Regions from separate parts of the Homo sapiens genome. Here region 2 is linked to region 1. Evidence: fine-mapped expression QTL. Tissue or cell type: whole blood. Region 1 holds a variant in brackets; the other region holds the start of a gene. All regions are shown on one strand. Distances are between the middles of the regions. Region 1 overlaps IL1RL1 (interleukin 1 receptor like 1). Region 2 holds the start of IL18R1 (interleukin 18 receptor 1).

What was found. PIP is the estimated chance that this variant, and not a neighbour inherited with it, causes the effect.
Region 2: IL18R1 starts here. The variant in region 1 is fine-mapped to the expression of IL18R1 in whole blood (INTERVAL, PIP 0.97).

What each region holds. Positions count from the first base shown.
Region 1 is chr2:102,331,012-102,339,011 of GRCh38, forward strand. It overlaps IL1RL1 (interleukin 1 receptor like 1), which reads left to right. Exons shown (of 11, transcript NM_016232.5): 2 at 7,105-7,314; 3 at 7,826-8,000. The coding sequence starts at 7,254. Among named protein-coding and RNA genes, the nearest start is that of IL18R1, 21 kb to the right of the region's middle. The variant G/T (reference allele first, on the strand shown) is at 3,478.
Region 2 is chr2:102,351,349-102,359,348 of GRCh38, forward strand. IL18R1 (interleukin 18 receptor 1) reads left to right here and starts at 4,448. Exons shown (of 11, transcript NM_003855.5): 1 at 4,448-5,052. It overlaps IL1RL1 (interleukin 1 receptor like 1), which reads left to right. Exons shown (of 11, transcript NM_016232.5): 11 at 188-689. The coding sequence ends at 573. RefSeq lists an enhancer at 4,217-4,718 and silencers at 4,313-4,422, 4,443-4,502.

The sequences.
Region 1 (8,000 bases):
TAAACTTATGTTGGCACTTTAATCAAACATCAATTTACTATATATTTTTGAGTCTACTTCTGGACTCTCTCTTCTTTGATCAACATGTCTGTCTTTATGCCCATACCACACTGTTTTCACTATGGTAGCTTTTATATTAAGTCTTAAGGTCAGGTTGTGTAAGTTCTCTGACTTTGTTCTTTTTCTTTAACCATGTCTTGGGTATTCCCAGGACTTTAATTTGCCATGCAGACTTTAGATTTCCATAGAAGCTTTAGAAGCAGATTCTGCTGCTGGGAGAATAAGTTACACTGACCTCAGGACAAAAGATGTACATGAACTAAATAAAGGACGACAAATGCAGACCACAGCAATAAAGTCTGTGGAATTAGTATGTGAGAAATTACACAATGGTCTAAAATATTAGTCTTGAAGGGATCTTAATGATGATTTAGTCATTTCACATGTGCAAACTGTTAAGACTGCTGGCTGTTTTTCACATGGCCACCAGCCCATTTCTTTTTCCTGAGTGTCTGCAGTCCACAGAGCTTCTTCTGGCTCTCTATGCTCCATCTGTTCTCGGCCCAGGAGTTCCCATGGGACCTCCCAAGGGTGACTCAGGTCTCATCTTCCGATAAGATAAAAGAAATAAGACAGATATTCGGGGTAGAGATGTAAGAGCATGGTGAAAGACAGACTGCTCCTGTTTAGATCCATATATAAAAGCTTTATTTTTTGAATCCCAAATTCCATCCCTTGGTCATCTGTACTGGTTCATTCAATAAATATTTCTGAGGCTGGGCATGGTGACTCAAGCCTGTAATCCCAGCACTTTGGGAGGTCAAGGTTGGTGGATCTCTTGAGCCCAGATGTTTGAGACCAGCTTTGGCAATATGGTGAAACCCCATCTCTACGAAAAATACAAAAATTAGCTGGGCATGGTGATGTGTGCATGTAGTCCCAGCTATTCTGGAGGCTGAGGTGGGAGGATCACCTGAGCCTGGGAGGTGGAGACTGCAGTGAGCCATGATCACACCACTGCACTCCATCCTGGGTGAAAGAGTGAGACCTTGCCTCAGAAATAATAATAATAATGATAATAAGTAAACATTTCTGAGCACCTACTTGGTGCTCTTCCAGGCACATGAGCTATATCAATAGACAAAACTCACAAAAATAATATTGCCTTCTGGAGGTCATATTCCAATGGATAAAACAGAAAATAATAAACATGATGCATAAGTAGAATGTTAGAAGTGATGAATGCCTTAGAAAAAGATTGGAGCAGGTTAAGGAGATGGGGATTGGGAGAGGAGACATTGCAATTCAAAATTGATTGGTCAGGAACTCAAACAAATACTTGGACACCGATAGCAGCATTATTCAAAATAGTCAATAGCTAGAAGCAACCCAGATGCCCATTAAGGGATGAATGGATAAACAAAGTGTGGTAGGCACACACAGTGGAATATTATTCAGTCATTAGAAACAATAAAGTACAGACCCATGCTACAATATGAACAAAACTTGGAAAGATTATGCTAAGTGAAATAAGGCAGTCACAAAGGGCACTTATTGTGTGACTCCATTTATAGGAAATATTCAGAATAGATAAACCCATAGAATCAGAAAGCAGATTGGTGGTGGCTATGGGTTTGTGGTGGAAGAGGAAGAATGGGGACTTCATGTTAATGGGTATGGGGTTATACTCGGGGATGGTGAAAATGTTTTGAAACTAGATAGAGTTAGTGGTTGTACCACATTGTGAATGTACCAAATGTCACTAAATTGTGCACTTCGAAATAGTTAATTTTATGTTATGTAAATTTCAGCGCAATTTTTAAAAATCAGAAGCAAAAAAAGAACAGAAAATTGAGTAGTTAGGCTAAGTCTCACAGAGAATGTACAGTTTGAGTGCTCACTTGGAGGAGGTAAGTTAGCTCTTGGAGGAGGTGGGTAACAGGAAGAAGCTGTCCAGGCAGAAGGAACAATGTCTGCCTAGTGCCTTCAAGGAACAGCAATGAGGATACGGGGTTGGAGGGGAGGGGTCAGAGAGGTGATTGGTGGTGTTCCATCGTGTGGTACCTCCCAGCTTCTGTAAAGACGTTGGCTTTTCCTCTGGGTGAGGTGGAAGACTTTGGAGGCCCCCTTGATTTGACCTAGGTTCTAACAGAATCTCCAGAGTGTCTGTTTTAGGAATATACTTAAGAGGGTACAAGTGGAAGCAGGGATAGCAATTTAGAAGCAGTTATTAAAATCCAAGTGAGAGACCATGGTGGCTTGGACAAGGATGGTGGCATTGAGAATGGAGAGATGCAATTGCAGGTAGGATGTCCTTTGAAGATGAAACCATAAGTTGTCCTGATGGATTGCATGTTCAATATGTGAGGAAGAGAAGAGTCAATAATAAATGGAGTCTTGGTCTGAGCCAACATTCAGCATGGAGTTGTCATCATTACAATTAGAAGACAATGGGAGATGCTGAATTTTCTTTGGGGCAAGGGAGGCAAGGAGGCTGGAGGAGATCAGAAGTTCTGTTCTGGAGACATGAAGCTTTTGTGAATTCCACTTGTTCCTTGAATATATGATGGTTTCTTCTGTTTTTGTTTGTTTGTTTTTTTAAATTTTAGATTCTAAGGTACATGTACTTGTTTGTTACAAAGGTATATTGCATTACTGGTGGGGACTGGTCTTACCCAAATTGTGAATATTGTACCCAGTAGGTAATTTTTCATTCATCACCCCCTACCCTCCCTACTTTTGGAGTCCCCAGTGTCTATTATTTCCATCTTTATGTCCATGAGTACCCATGGTTTAGCTCCCACATATGAGTAAGAACATGTGGTATTTGGTTTTCTGTTTCTTAACTGGTTCACTTAAGATAATGGTCTCCAGCTCCATCCATGTAGCAAAGGACATAATCTCATTCTTTTTATGGCTGAATAGTAATCCGTGGTGCATAGGTACAACATTTTCTTTATCTAGTCAACCGTTGATGGACACTTGAGTTGGTTCCATGACTTTCCTATTGTGAACCGTGCTGCAGTGAACATACTAGTAGAGGTGGAGAGGTGTCTTTTTTATACACTAATTTCTTTTCCTTAGAAAAGTAGTGAGATTTCTGGGTTGAATGGTAGTTTTACTTTTGGTTCATTGAGAAATCTTCATACTGTTTTCCTTAGAGATTGAACTAATTGACATTCCCAGCAACAATGTATAAGCATTCCCTTTTCTCCATATCCATGCCAACATCTGCTGTTTTTTGAGTTTTTGATAATAGCCATTCAGACGGGTCTTCTGGTTTTTGGAGGGGAGGATTGGGTGAAGCAAGAAGGAGTTTGGAGGGAAGGAGTGGAGGCTTGAGTGGGCCTAGAGTTTGGAGTATGGGCAAGAAGGATCCCAGAGACAAGCACTTTGCCCACAGCTACACAGCTAATGGAGCTGGGGGGCCCAGCATATTCTCCAGAGGCCCAGGCTAGGCCGTCTAGGGGCATGCTT[G/T]TTCTGCCCCATCCACTGCAGGTCCTGAAAACATTTTCATCAATAAAAAAAAATAAAAAAACAGAATAAAAATGATACCCAGATGTCCTCTAGTGAAATGAGGGGAAAAAAAACATCCATCCCCAGCTTATTGTGAGAGTCACTGAATGAGAGCCTGACTCACTGAAATTCATATAAGATTAATGTAACCAAGTTCCCTGTCTTTTGACACTGGTTTACAGTAAGAGCAGGCCACACATGGCCAGCTCTGGAGTGTGTTAGGACATTTACATTTTACATTTCAGTGTGATATCTGCTAAGTCAAATGAAGAAGTCTTGAAAGATACCTTCTAAGTTCGGAAGTATTTGAGTGTCACATTCCATATGCCAGCAGTTAGTTGTTGCCCTCAAAACATAAGGTTTTGTTTGTTCTTTTGTTTTTTGTTTTTTTAATGGTTATGTAAGTGAAGTAGATTATAAATAGGCACATACAGGATTTCAAAACTGTAACAAAATTAAGAAAAAGCTGGTTCAATGAGCTTAGATTCTATGAGATTAATCTGAAAAGGGAGAGTAGTTATGAGAAGTCTTAAAAAAGTGGGTGTTTGCCAGAGAAACAAGCGGACACTGGAAGATTTCTGATTAAGTTGGCAGAAATTTATGGGTGCTTAAAATGCCTTGCTTTATTCATGTATTAGAAGCCCTTGCCTTTTTGCAGTTTGTCTTAAGTTGCTATAAACTACTCTCTGTTATGTTGAATGGTGCCTGAATAGTGAGAAGCCAAAATAATTTAGTTCTTTTCAAAGAAGAAATTATAGACTAGCTTATTTTAATAACCCAGTCCAAATTATAAAAAGAAAAGCTTTACCAGCCTAATCTCTGGTATAGAGAATGTTCTCTTTTTTTAGTTGACATTGGGGGGAGAAAAGCTTGACTTTGAAGTTCAGCAAGTCTGGTTTCAACCCCAGCCACAACTGGGTGAACTTTGTCAAATTACTTAAACAGTCTTATCCTTGGGTTTTTATTTGTAACTATAAAATTTGAGTGATGTTAATGATAAGTACCACAGAGTATTGTACTTTGAATGAAAGGTCTTAATTGTCAAATGAACAACTGAATTATTTTATAGGAAGAGTTCAACTTTAATAAATACTCCTGCAGAATTTCATCATTATGATGTTAAAATTGATGGAAGCTTTATTTTTTAAACTGAGAAACTAATGCTTACGTGGCCTAGTTTAAGAATGAATGCTCCAACTTAATACATGTTTTAAAAAGATGTTTTGGGATACCAAATGTAAAAGAATTCCGAGTTTGTGTTATTTTATTGAACAAACCTATTCAGCACTTGGGGAATCGCAGGCAGCATTGCAGACTCGCTGGCTCCTGGCTGTGATCTCACACCCAAACTGCAATAATATCCTGATAAAACGGACTTCCACAAGTAGGTCAAGAATAATAATGTGCAGACCTAATTCCTCTAATTTACGGCGAACATCTCATGGTCAATCTCCCCGCGGTCAAAGGACTGTGTATCTCTTCCTCTCAGAGCCACTCCACAGGCTGAAAGGCTGACTAAACCCCTGACAGATAAGAGATTCAAGAGTAGTCCCAGCCCCCATGGGGAGCAAAGACGCTGGCTCAAAAAACGTACTGATAACTCTCCCTTTTGCAGCTACTCCTTTCTGAACCTTCCACAAGCAGTGGCAGTTGGATTCTGTGATTAGTCTAGTCTTCAGAGCCAGCCTTCTTGAGTTCAAATTCTGACTTCACCCCTTAATGTGAAGTGACATGGGCAAGTTGCTTAATCTCTCTGTGCCTCAGTGTCCTTGTCTGTAAAATGGGCATCATAATAATAGCGCCTGCCACATTGGGTGAGTGTGAGAATGAAGGAATTAATACATGTAAATCACTTAGACTGTGTCTGGCATAGAGGACATTCTAAAGAAAAGTTAGCTATTATCATTATATTATTATATGGGTCTGGAATTAGTTCCTGAATCCTTCTGAGATGTGATGACTTATAAACGTAGGTTGAGTTTACTCATGATAGGGTCATCGCAACTATGCATAGCTAAAATCAAATTTTGCTTTTCAAGTTTGTTTTACCTGGAGCCCTAGAGTTCAGGGTTATGGTTTTCTTTGTCACTCCCCTTGAGGGAAGCTTCTTAGTCACACTCTCCTTCTCTTTCTCTGCACTCTATGCACTCTAGAAAAGCTCCTTTTTTTTTTTCTTCATCCAGGCAGAGAGGCCTACTGGGACTTAAATCCAAGGAGCTGAAATCTGTTTTGGGATGGGGTGGAGTCACATTCTGGAACCTAGACAGAGAATTTCTAAGTTCCAGAAAGTGCTGCTTACTTCGCATTTCCTCTCCCCCACCTTTGCTTTTGAAACTCCTGGCACCAATGCTGCCAAGGCTGGCGGAGCTTTCCTGAGTGGTGTCTGCCAAATGAGGAGTCAAGGAATATCTGGAAAGGCAGCCTCCAGGTCCCCGATGTCAAGACCATTTAGAACTGAAAGTGTCCCAATATCGGGGTACAGGCAATAAGCATTAGTTATTAATCAGCCTGAGAAGTTGATTCTAAAATAGGAGGAAATGATTCAATTATTTCCTCTCAAGGGATTACTCAATGTTGTTTTTATGTTTAAATATTTATTTGTCAACATCAAGAATTCTTAGTACATGATGCACCAGCATTTTTGAACAAGTCATAGATTTGGCCACAAATCAAATTTCAGGATGGGAGGAGTGTCTCCCCTTTAAAATAGAAGAGAGTGAGTAGTCTATGAGGAGGGACCTACAAAGACTGGAAACTATTCTTAGCTCCGTCACTGACTCCAAGTTCATCCCCTCTGTCTTTCAGTTTGGGTAAGCATCAATTACTTATCTAAAATTTGTAATAAGAAAAGTCTTCATAATTCATGATTGTGTTTATCTTTATGTTAGTAAATTTCTATGTTGGTTCTATTCTTCCCCTTATATTTTAAGAAAAGAAGTAAGAAAGTAAATGATTATTTTTCTGAAAGAAAAAATTAATGTATTTATTATTATTCATAGACCTTCAACTACTCTTAGAAAGCCTTTGGTGACTCCTGGGAACAAGCTGAGTCAGGAACAAAAGTTTGAGGGTTTGGGGTTGAGAATAGGACAATTACTTGGCTAATGCTTTAGTCTAGTTCTGATTTTGCTACTCCTTAGTTGCTTTGTGATGACTACTTGCACATGTGTCTGTTTGTGAGTTATTTTTGTGAGCATGCTGCTACCAGCCTGTGTGGATGTCTGTGGTTTCACATGATACATTTTATTTTCTAAAGTCTACTGAATTTTATGGTTTTTTTTTCAAAAATAGAAACTCATATTCTTTCCTTCTTAATTTAGTTTCTTTCAGGACATTCTCATGAGACTGGTGAAATATAACTGCGAAGTAGCATGATAACTGTGAAATAGCATGATCATTGTGAAAGCTATATGACCCAAAACTTCCATAGGAATAAGTGCAATGCTTGCATATCTGAAACCTGCTGTTACATCTCTTTGCACTTAATAAATATGTGTTGACTGATTCATTCTCCTGGGTGGTGCTGAGAAAGTAAAAATCATGGCTGATAAAAATTCTGTTTATGGTTTTGTCTAACTTATTTTTCAGTTGAGATATAGGCTACTCTTCCCAACTCAGTCTTGAAGAGTATCACCAACTGCCTCATGTGTGGTGACCTTCACTGTCGTATGCCAGTGACTCATCTGGAGTAATCTCAACAACGAGTTACCAATACTTGCTCTTGATTGATAAACAGAATGGGGTTTTGGATCTTAGCAATTCTCACAATTCTCATGTATTCCACAGCAGCAAAGTTTAGTAAGTATTGCCTTCTAAGTATAATTTAAATTTTTATAAATTAAATAATTTCAAGAACATTTACCTTGTTTTAAGCAGTTTGCTTCCAGTTGTTCCAGTTGAATTGTAAACTGAAAAATATATTGCTTTTGTACAATCATTTTTCATTACAAATCTATCAGAAGAAATTCTTTGTAATGAATATATCATCAGTTTGGCTTTGCATATTCAAATGCAGCAGAATTTAATGTGGTGCCTGCACATGGGAAGTGTTGTGGATGTTTATTGACTGACACACAGTTTGTTTAGATAGATAAGGCTGCTTTTCCATTGGATAACTGTGGGGGATTTAGCTCCAAATTAATTCATTAACATTTCATAAGAGATCTTAACAGTTACTTATTCTTTCCCAAGGTATCACAGTATATGACCGGCTTCTAAATTTAATCCTAGAAGAAAATATTGAGAGTATAAGAATTATGATCTTTTCATTTGATCATTTCAGGATTGTCTTTATATCTTTTATTTGCAGGTAAACAATCATGGGGCCTGGAAAATGAGGCTTTAATTGTAAGATGTCCTAGACAAGGAAAACCTAGTTACACCGTGGATTGGTATTACTCACAAACAAACAAAAGTATTCCCACTCAGGAAAGAAATCGTGTGTTTGCCTCAGGCCAACTTCTGAAGTTTCTACCAGCTGCAGT
Region 2 (8,000 bases), 20 kb after region 1:
CAAATGAAAGGAACACAAAGAACAAAACGGGTTCTCTATCCACACATACTTCCACTTCTCTGAGTAAGTGACTTGATGTCAGAGAATCTCACACCAGATTATAACAATAAGACTTTTAAATGTTCAGGATGTTTATGTTTAAAGCATTAGACTGATAAGAAATCTGATCTATTTCTTGTATGACTAGATGTAGTCACTGCAGTGGAAACCAACATACGAAAGAGCAGGCGGCACATTTTCATCCTGACCCCTCAGATCACTCACAATAAGGAGTTTGCCTACGAGCAGGAGGTTGCCCTGCACTGTGCCCTCATCCAGAACGACGCCAAGGTGATACTTATTGAGATGGAGGCTCTGAGCGAGCTGGACATGCTGCAGGCTGAGGCGCTTCAGGACTCCCTCCAGCATCTTATGAAAGTACAGGGGACCATCAAGTGGAGGGAGGACCACATTGCCAATAAAAGGTCCCTGAATTCTAAATTCTGGAAGCACGTGAGGTACCAAATGCCTGTGCCAAGCAAAATTCCCAGAAAGGCCTCTAGTTTGACTCCCTTGGCTGCCCAGAAGCAATAGTGCCTGCTGTGATGTGCAAAGGCATCTGAGTTTGAAGCTTTCCTGACTTCTCCTAGCTGGCTTATGCCCCTGCACTGAAGTGTGAGGAGCAGGAATATTAAAGGGATTCAGGCCTCAGGTTTCATCTGGTAACTTTCCTTCCATTTCCCTGCTTCTGGGTGGATGCAAAATGGCCAGAAATTTTTCTCCTCAATCCTCCACCATCCTCCAGCCACCATTTTCTTCCCTTTTCCCTTTTGCTTGCCTGTCTTCACTGTGGTGTGGGATGTTTTCACTACTCTTTTTTCCTCTCTCTCTGTCTTGCTTTGTTTCTCCTCATTCTTGTCAATAATCTGAATAGCAAACTAATCATTCGAGAGTAGATTTTCACGTCACTTGAAGAACATTCTGATTCCCTCAGGCAGAATGTCAGTTGTAAATCTTGTTCCCAACATGCCAGATTTTCTTTATTTTCTATATATATATATAATATTTTATATATAATATTATATATAATATTTTATATATAATTTTATATATAAAATATTATATATAATATTATATATAATATTTTCTATATAAAATGTGTATATAATTATATATAATTATATAAAATATAATATAGAATATCTAATAATGTATAATATATAACATATAAAAATAATATTATTTAATATATAATATTTTATATATAATATTTTTATATATAATATAATATATATTTTATATATAATTATTAATTATATAATTAATATATAATATATATTTTATACATAATTATTAATTATATATAATTAATATATAATATATCTTATACATAATTATCAATTATATATAATTAATATATAATATATATTTTATACATAATTATTAATTATATATAATTAATATATAATATATCTTATACATAATATATATAAATATATTATATATAATATATATTATATATAATATTATATATAATATATATTATATATATAAAATTTATATATAATATTATATATAATATTATATATTTTATATACAATATGATATATAATATAATTTATATATTATATATATTTATATATAATTATTATATAAATTATATAAATATAAATTATATATTTATATATAATTATTATATAAATCATTATATAATTATTATAATTATAATATATAATATAATATAATATTATATATAATATATAGTATTCTATATAAATAATATAACATATATTTTATATAGAATATTATATATAATATAATATATATTTTATATAGAATATTATATATAATATAATATATATTTTATATAGAATATTTTATATATATAATATTATATATATGTATTTGAGACAGAGTCTCCTATGAACATACTTGTGGACTTATGATTTTATTTTGACACTTAAGAGTGGTCATAGGGTAGGTGCATATTTAACTTTCAGAGAAACTTATACATTGTTTCGCAAACTAATTGTACTACTTTACATTCCCACCAGTTGTGTATGAGAGCTCTGCTGCTTCATTGCCTCACCAATAATTGGTGTTGTCAAGTTTCTTTATATTTTAACAATTTTCACAGGTGTTAGATGAAGATCACCATGGTCTTAACTTGAAGTTCCCCGACTCATGATGATGAGCCCTTTTCATGTTTTCATTGGCCATTCGTATATATTTTTTAGTGAAGGCAAAATATTTTGCCTTATTTAAATTGTATTTCTTTTTATATTGTTGATGTGTAGGAATTATTTATGTATTGTGGATGCAAGTTCTTTGCCAGATAGATGTAAAGTGAGAATATTTCCAGGGTTATCTATTCATTTTTAAGTGATGTCTTTGTTTAGTAGACATTTTTAATTTTGGTGATGTCCAATTAATCAATGTGTCCCAAATGGCTATTTTTTTTTGTGTCCTAGCTAAGAATTTTTTTTTTTTGCCTGTCCAAGAGCATGATTTATTTATTTATTTTTTGCCTGTTCAAGGGTCTTCTCTGTATTTTTATGAAATATTTACGGTTCTAGCTTTTATGTTTAGGTCCATGGTCTATTGTGAATTGATACTTGTATATAGAACAAGGCAAGGACAAAGTTCTTTTTTCTGCTGCTGCTTCTTCTGTAGAGGTACCCAGCTGTTCCAGCAATGTTTGTGAAAGACTGTTTTTTCCCCACTGAATTGACATGGTGCTTTGTTAAAAAAATCAATTGACTAGATATGTGTGGATCTATTAGTCTACTTTCTATTTTGTATGTTTGTATGTTTCTGTGAATATCACATTGCCATAATTACTATTGCCTTATTATAAATCCTCAAGTCAGTATAAGTCTCTCAACTTTGTTCATCTTTGTCAAGATTGCCCAGACAGGCCGGGCAGGTGGCTCACCCCTGTAATTTCAACACTTTGGGAGGCTGAAATGGGTGGATCACCTGAGGTCGAGAGTTCAAAACCAGCCTGACCAACACGGAGAAACCCTGTCTCTACTAAAAATACAAAAGTAGCCAGGCGTGATAGTGCATGCCTGTAATCCCAGCTACTCGGGCGGCTGAGGCAGGAGAATCGCTTGAACCCGGGAGGCGGAGGTTGCAGTGAGCCGAGATCGCGTCATTGCACTCACTCCAGCCTGGGCAAGAAGAGCAAAACTCCGTCTCTGTCCGGACAATCCTAGATTATTTGCATTTTCATATGAATTTTAGAAACAGCTTCTTAATTTCTTTGAAAAATTTTCCTGGGATTTGGATTGAATTGTATTAAATATATAGATTCTGTAATATATAGAGTCTAAAAATATACAGTGTGGAGAATAGATGTCTTAAGTCTTCCAATCCGTAAACGTGGTATATCCCTTTATTACTTAGATGTTTCATCTCTGTTAGCAATATTTTGTAGTTTTCACAGGAGATATCTCATATATTATCCAATGAATTTATACTTTGGTATTTTGATTTTTAAATGCTATGGTAAATGGCATTTTTAACAAACTTCACTTTTCAAGTTTCCATCTCTAATATATAGAATTGCTATTGATTTTTATATTCCATGATCTTGATAAACTTAATATTTCCAGTAGTTTTTTTTTTTGTAGATTTCAAAAGTTGGTCTACATATAATTATGCTCTCTGTTAAAACCAGTAGTTTTAATTCTTTCTTCTCAATCTTTATGCTTTCTAATTTTATTTTTATTTCTTCACTTGTTGCAAAGCAGTTGTCCCAGGTGGGAGCCAAAATCCTTATCTCATTACTAATCTTAGGAAAAAGTAAAATGTTTCACTATTATGAGGTCACCTGTAGGTTTCTTATAGATGTTCTTTATCAGATTAAGAAAGATCATTTCTACTCTCGGTTTTCTGATCGTTATTAATTCAGAAAGGGTGTTGAATTTTGCCAGATGCTTTTATTTGCATTTATTGAGATAATTACATATTTTTATTTATTATGTGGTGAATTATCTAAATTGGGTAAAAAGAATTAAAATCATTGTCCAATTGAACATTTTGCCTGTCGGCTATGGGTTTCCCTTTTCCTTTGGTTAAATAACAGTTCTGCCACAAAATAAAAATCTAGAAACACACATTCCCCTTTGGCCTCCTTAAAAAAAATTAAAACTTCAACAATTGCACCCCTCTCTATTACTTCCCTATAGTGAACTCCCATCCTTCTGGGAAAGCAAAAAGCCTGGGGCGCATTTGTGTACTTGAGACGCGGAGCCCCTCTCACCTTCGGCATCCCCCGGGGACCCCTCTTCCACCCTCAGCCCTCCCCTCCTCTTCCTCTGAAGAGCCGGGCGGCCGCTGCGGCCAGCGGTCCTCCCTCCTGGCATCCTCTGCTGTGAACCGCGGCCTGCAGGGTGCTTGCGAGCGGCCCGGGCGCGCCCCCTTCCGGCCCCGCAGGTCACCCGGCTACAGCCCGGGTTTTCCCGGGACCCGCGCCGCGCGGCTGGGCAGGAAGCGCCAGACGCCTGGGGCCCACGCCGTCCGCGGGAAAAGGGCAAGGCGCTGGGTTTTCCAGCAGCAACCTTTGGACCCCGCGATCCAGTAGCTCCGGTAACTCCACGCGGGGCGTCTGGGTGGAGGAGCCGGTCCTGGAGCACGGCTGCGAGGAGCACCCGGACCGGAGGGTCCCCAGACCGGGACCTCCGAGTCAGGGAGGATTCTACGCCAGGGAGCGCCCCAGACTGAGAGCGCCCCAGACCGCTACACTCCCGGACCCGGAGCTTCGCCCGACCGCGGGCAGTGCCCACCTGCAGCCTCCACCGGCCGGGGTTAGCAGCCAGGAGCTGCCAGACGCCTGACATTCTTCTTTCTGTTCCTACTTTTTTTCCTTCTTCTTCTTTTTTTTTTTTTTTGTAGCCCTCTCTGGGTGCCTTATCTCTTTAATCACACCTCTCTTTCACTTTCCACGGTAGTCAGGAGGCGGAGATCGCTGCTTCTCACCTACTTTCTGAACTTGGCCTCCGCAGTCGCGACCTGGCGTGAAGGAGGAGCTGCCGCCCCCGCCCCAGCCTCGGGGACGCCTCTCTGAAGGTAAGGGTGGGCTCCGCTGCCACCCGCATCCCCTCCCCACCCCCCAGAGGAAGGGAAGACCACCATCCGGGGAGGGATTCTCAAAACAAGATCAATTAAGAGAGAGAGAGAGATAGTGTGTGTGTGAATACGTGTGAATAATTGATGAGACAGCATCCTGTCTTTCTCTGAAAGTATAGTTTTAGAAATTAAGACATCCCCAATTATTTTCTGGAGAGGTGAGAACGACTGAAATAAATGATAACAATAGTTGTCATTTTTTAAGTGCTTACTGTGTGCCTGACACTGTAGAAAATTTTTAGATATCTTATTTTCACTTAATCCTCCTAAGGGCCACATGAAATAGGAACTATTATTATGCTTTAATAAAAGGGAGGAGGAATTCCGTCATTTACCCAAGAGTATCCAGCTACTAAGTAGTAGATCCCAGATCCACACCTACAGTTTTTCTGATTCCAGAGCCTTTGTCTTTTTTCTGCCCAGCCTTGGGAAGTTAAAATGCCCAGCACCTTGCATCGCAGTTATCAGACAAATTAATGAGGTGTCAATTGCAGCCAGATACAGAGATCCAAGATTATTGTATTCATTTCACTGACTTCCCTTGCTTCATTCTCAAGACCCTTTGCAAATACTGATTTTGTGTCATACACAGTGCTGCTATTGGGAGCACACCTCTCAACCTCAGGGCCTTGGATGGGCTAGGAGGGGTAAATTTGGGGAATTGGGTTTGTGCAGGTTCTGGGGACAGTGTTTTCCCTCTCCCTGCACAAATATACATCCAAAGGCTGAGAACTAAGGCTAAGGCCTAGGAATGTGGATTGAAAAGGCAGGGTCTAAATCCCAGCACTTGGGAGGCTGAGGTGGGCGGATCATGAGGTCAGGAGATCGAGACCATCCTGGCTAACATGGTGAAACCCCGTCTCTACTAAAAATACAGAAAATTAGCCAGGCATGGTGGCATGCATCTGTAATCCCAGCTACTCGGGAGGCTGAGGCAGGAGAATCCCTTGAACCTGGGAGGCAGAGGTTGCAGTGAGCAGAGATTGTGCCACTGCACTCCAGCCTGGGCGACAGAGTGAGACTCTATCTCAAAAAAAAAAAAGAAAAAAAAGAAAAGGCAGGGTCCCTGCCTTCAGGGACCTCACCAGAGAGTGGGAGCTAGTCCAGGAGTGATGGAAACACCTGCAGAGTGATGGAGACGGGCTTGGACATAGGCATGTGCCATTTGGGGCTGTTGCAGTTGGAGAGCTTCCTTGAGAAGGCAAATACTGAGCCAAGTTGAAAGGACTCTAGGGACCTGGCATCTGGGATAAGTGGGGAGGGTGGCCCAGGTAGCACAGGCATAGGCAGATTTGGGGGGAAGCATAAGGCTAACAACAGACACTTGTGTGACAAGGACTATGAGGTGGCATTGATTTTCTTGGCCTTACAGATGAGAAGCCAGATTCCACACAAATTATTTTGTTTGTTAGAGTTTAAGCGTGTGTGTGTGTGTGTATGTTATGCCCCAAGATCATTTTCTCCTCTTTGCATTTGGTTGTTTTATCATCTCACAGGCTGAGTAAAACGACTATGCATGGAACACTGTAGAAGAAAAATTATATTAAAAAAAAACTGGTGTTATGATTTTCATCCAGGCATTTTGTCTCAGGAGTTGCTCGATTGTATGTGTTGCTAATGAGTGATTTATATTGAGGCATCTACATTGATTCATGTGTGTCCTTGTGAATAGCTGTAATCTGAGGCTGGCCATTTCACTTCCTCAAATCTCAGGTTCCTCATTAGAAAGAGCTTTGAAATGGCTCTTTCCCTGTACATTATGTGTTTCTGTGAATTACTTTTAGAGAAAGGTCAGTTTCTCAGGGTGGGACCCATAAACAAGGGCAACTGGGCAGAGCCAGGGGTTCAGGTGACTGTTTGGACCCTCTGGAAGGGCTTTTTACTGTGCTGCCTTGGGAGACAGAGTGGTCAGCTTGGAACTGACCTTAAGCCTAGGTCACCCAATTTTTGAAGGAAACTTTTTTTTTTCATTTAGAGAAAACTTCATGCCTTTGGGTGATTAGGTAAGTTTGTGACTATTCGTTATGTGTGTGTACACACACGTACGTACATATGTACATGCACAAATATTTAATATGTCTTAGACACACCAAATATATGCATTTAAGATGTATTAAATGTACTTTCCTGAGAATACAAATAAGTGCCCTACGTCGGCGGCTCTCTTCCTGACTGTATGTTAGAGTCACCTGCGGAGTTCTGAGGACTCAAGATGCCCAGTCTGTCCTCCAGACCACTGGGTGGAGCCCGGGCATCATTATTTTTTTCCAAACTTGGGTGAGAGCTGGTGGCCTAGACTTCACATTAGTTGCTAAAACATACTTTCCAAGATATCATGCGTTAAAAAGCATTTCAAAAGTAGATTGTGCAGATGTGCCAATGGATCAGATGATCACCTAGATTCAAAATTATGTATATTTTATGGATGTAATTCATTCAATAATTCAGCAAATAACAAAGAAACAAGCAGACATAAAGTGAAAATATGACAGTTAGTGATAAGTGCTATGAATAGAAAAACTAAACATGGGAGGGTAGAGGAACATTGGTGTGTGTGAGCATGTGTGTGTGTGTGCGTGTGTGTGCATGTGCATGTTTGCATTTGGAAAAGCATGCTGTGCTAGACTTGCAGTAGAGTGCTCAGGGAGGACCTGTACATTATAAGCTAGTGTCAGCAAACCGTAGGGGAAATACAGGATTATTTAATTAACAATAGAGAAGTAATTAGTAGGTATTTGAGGAAAGTAAGTTTAGTTACTCCCTATCTTCATGTCAATCAAGAAAATTAATTGTTGGTGGATGAAAAAAGTTAAATATAAAAACAAAACAAAACAATACTGAGCCATAAAAATGAAGAAACTATGTAAGCATCTATTTGACCACCAACA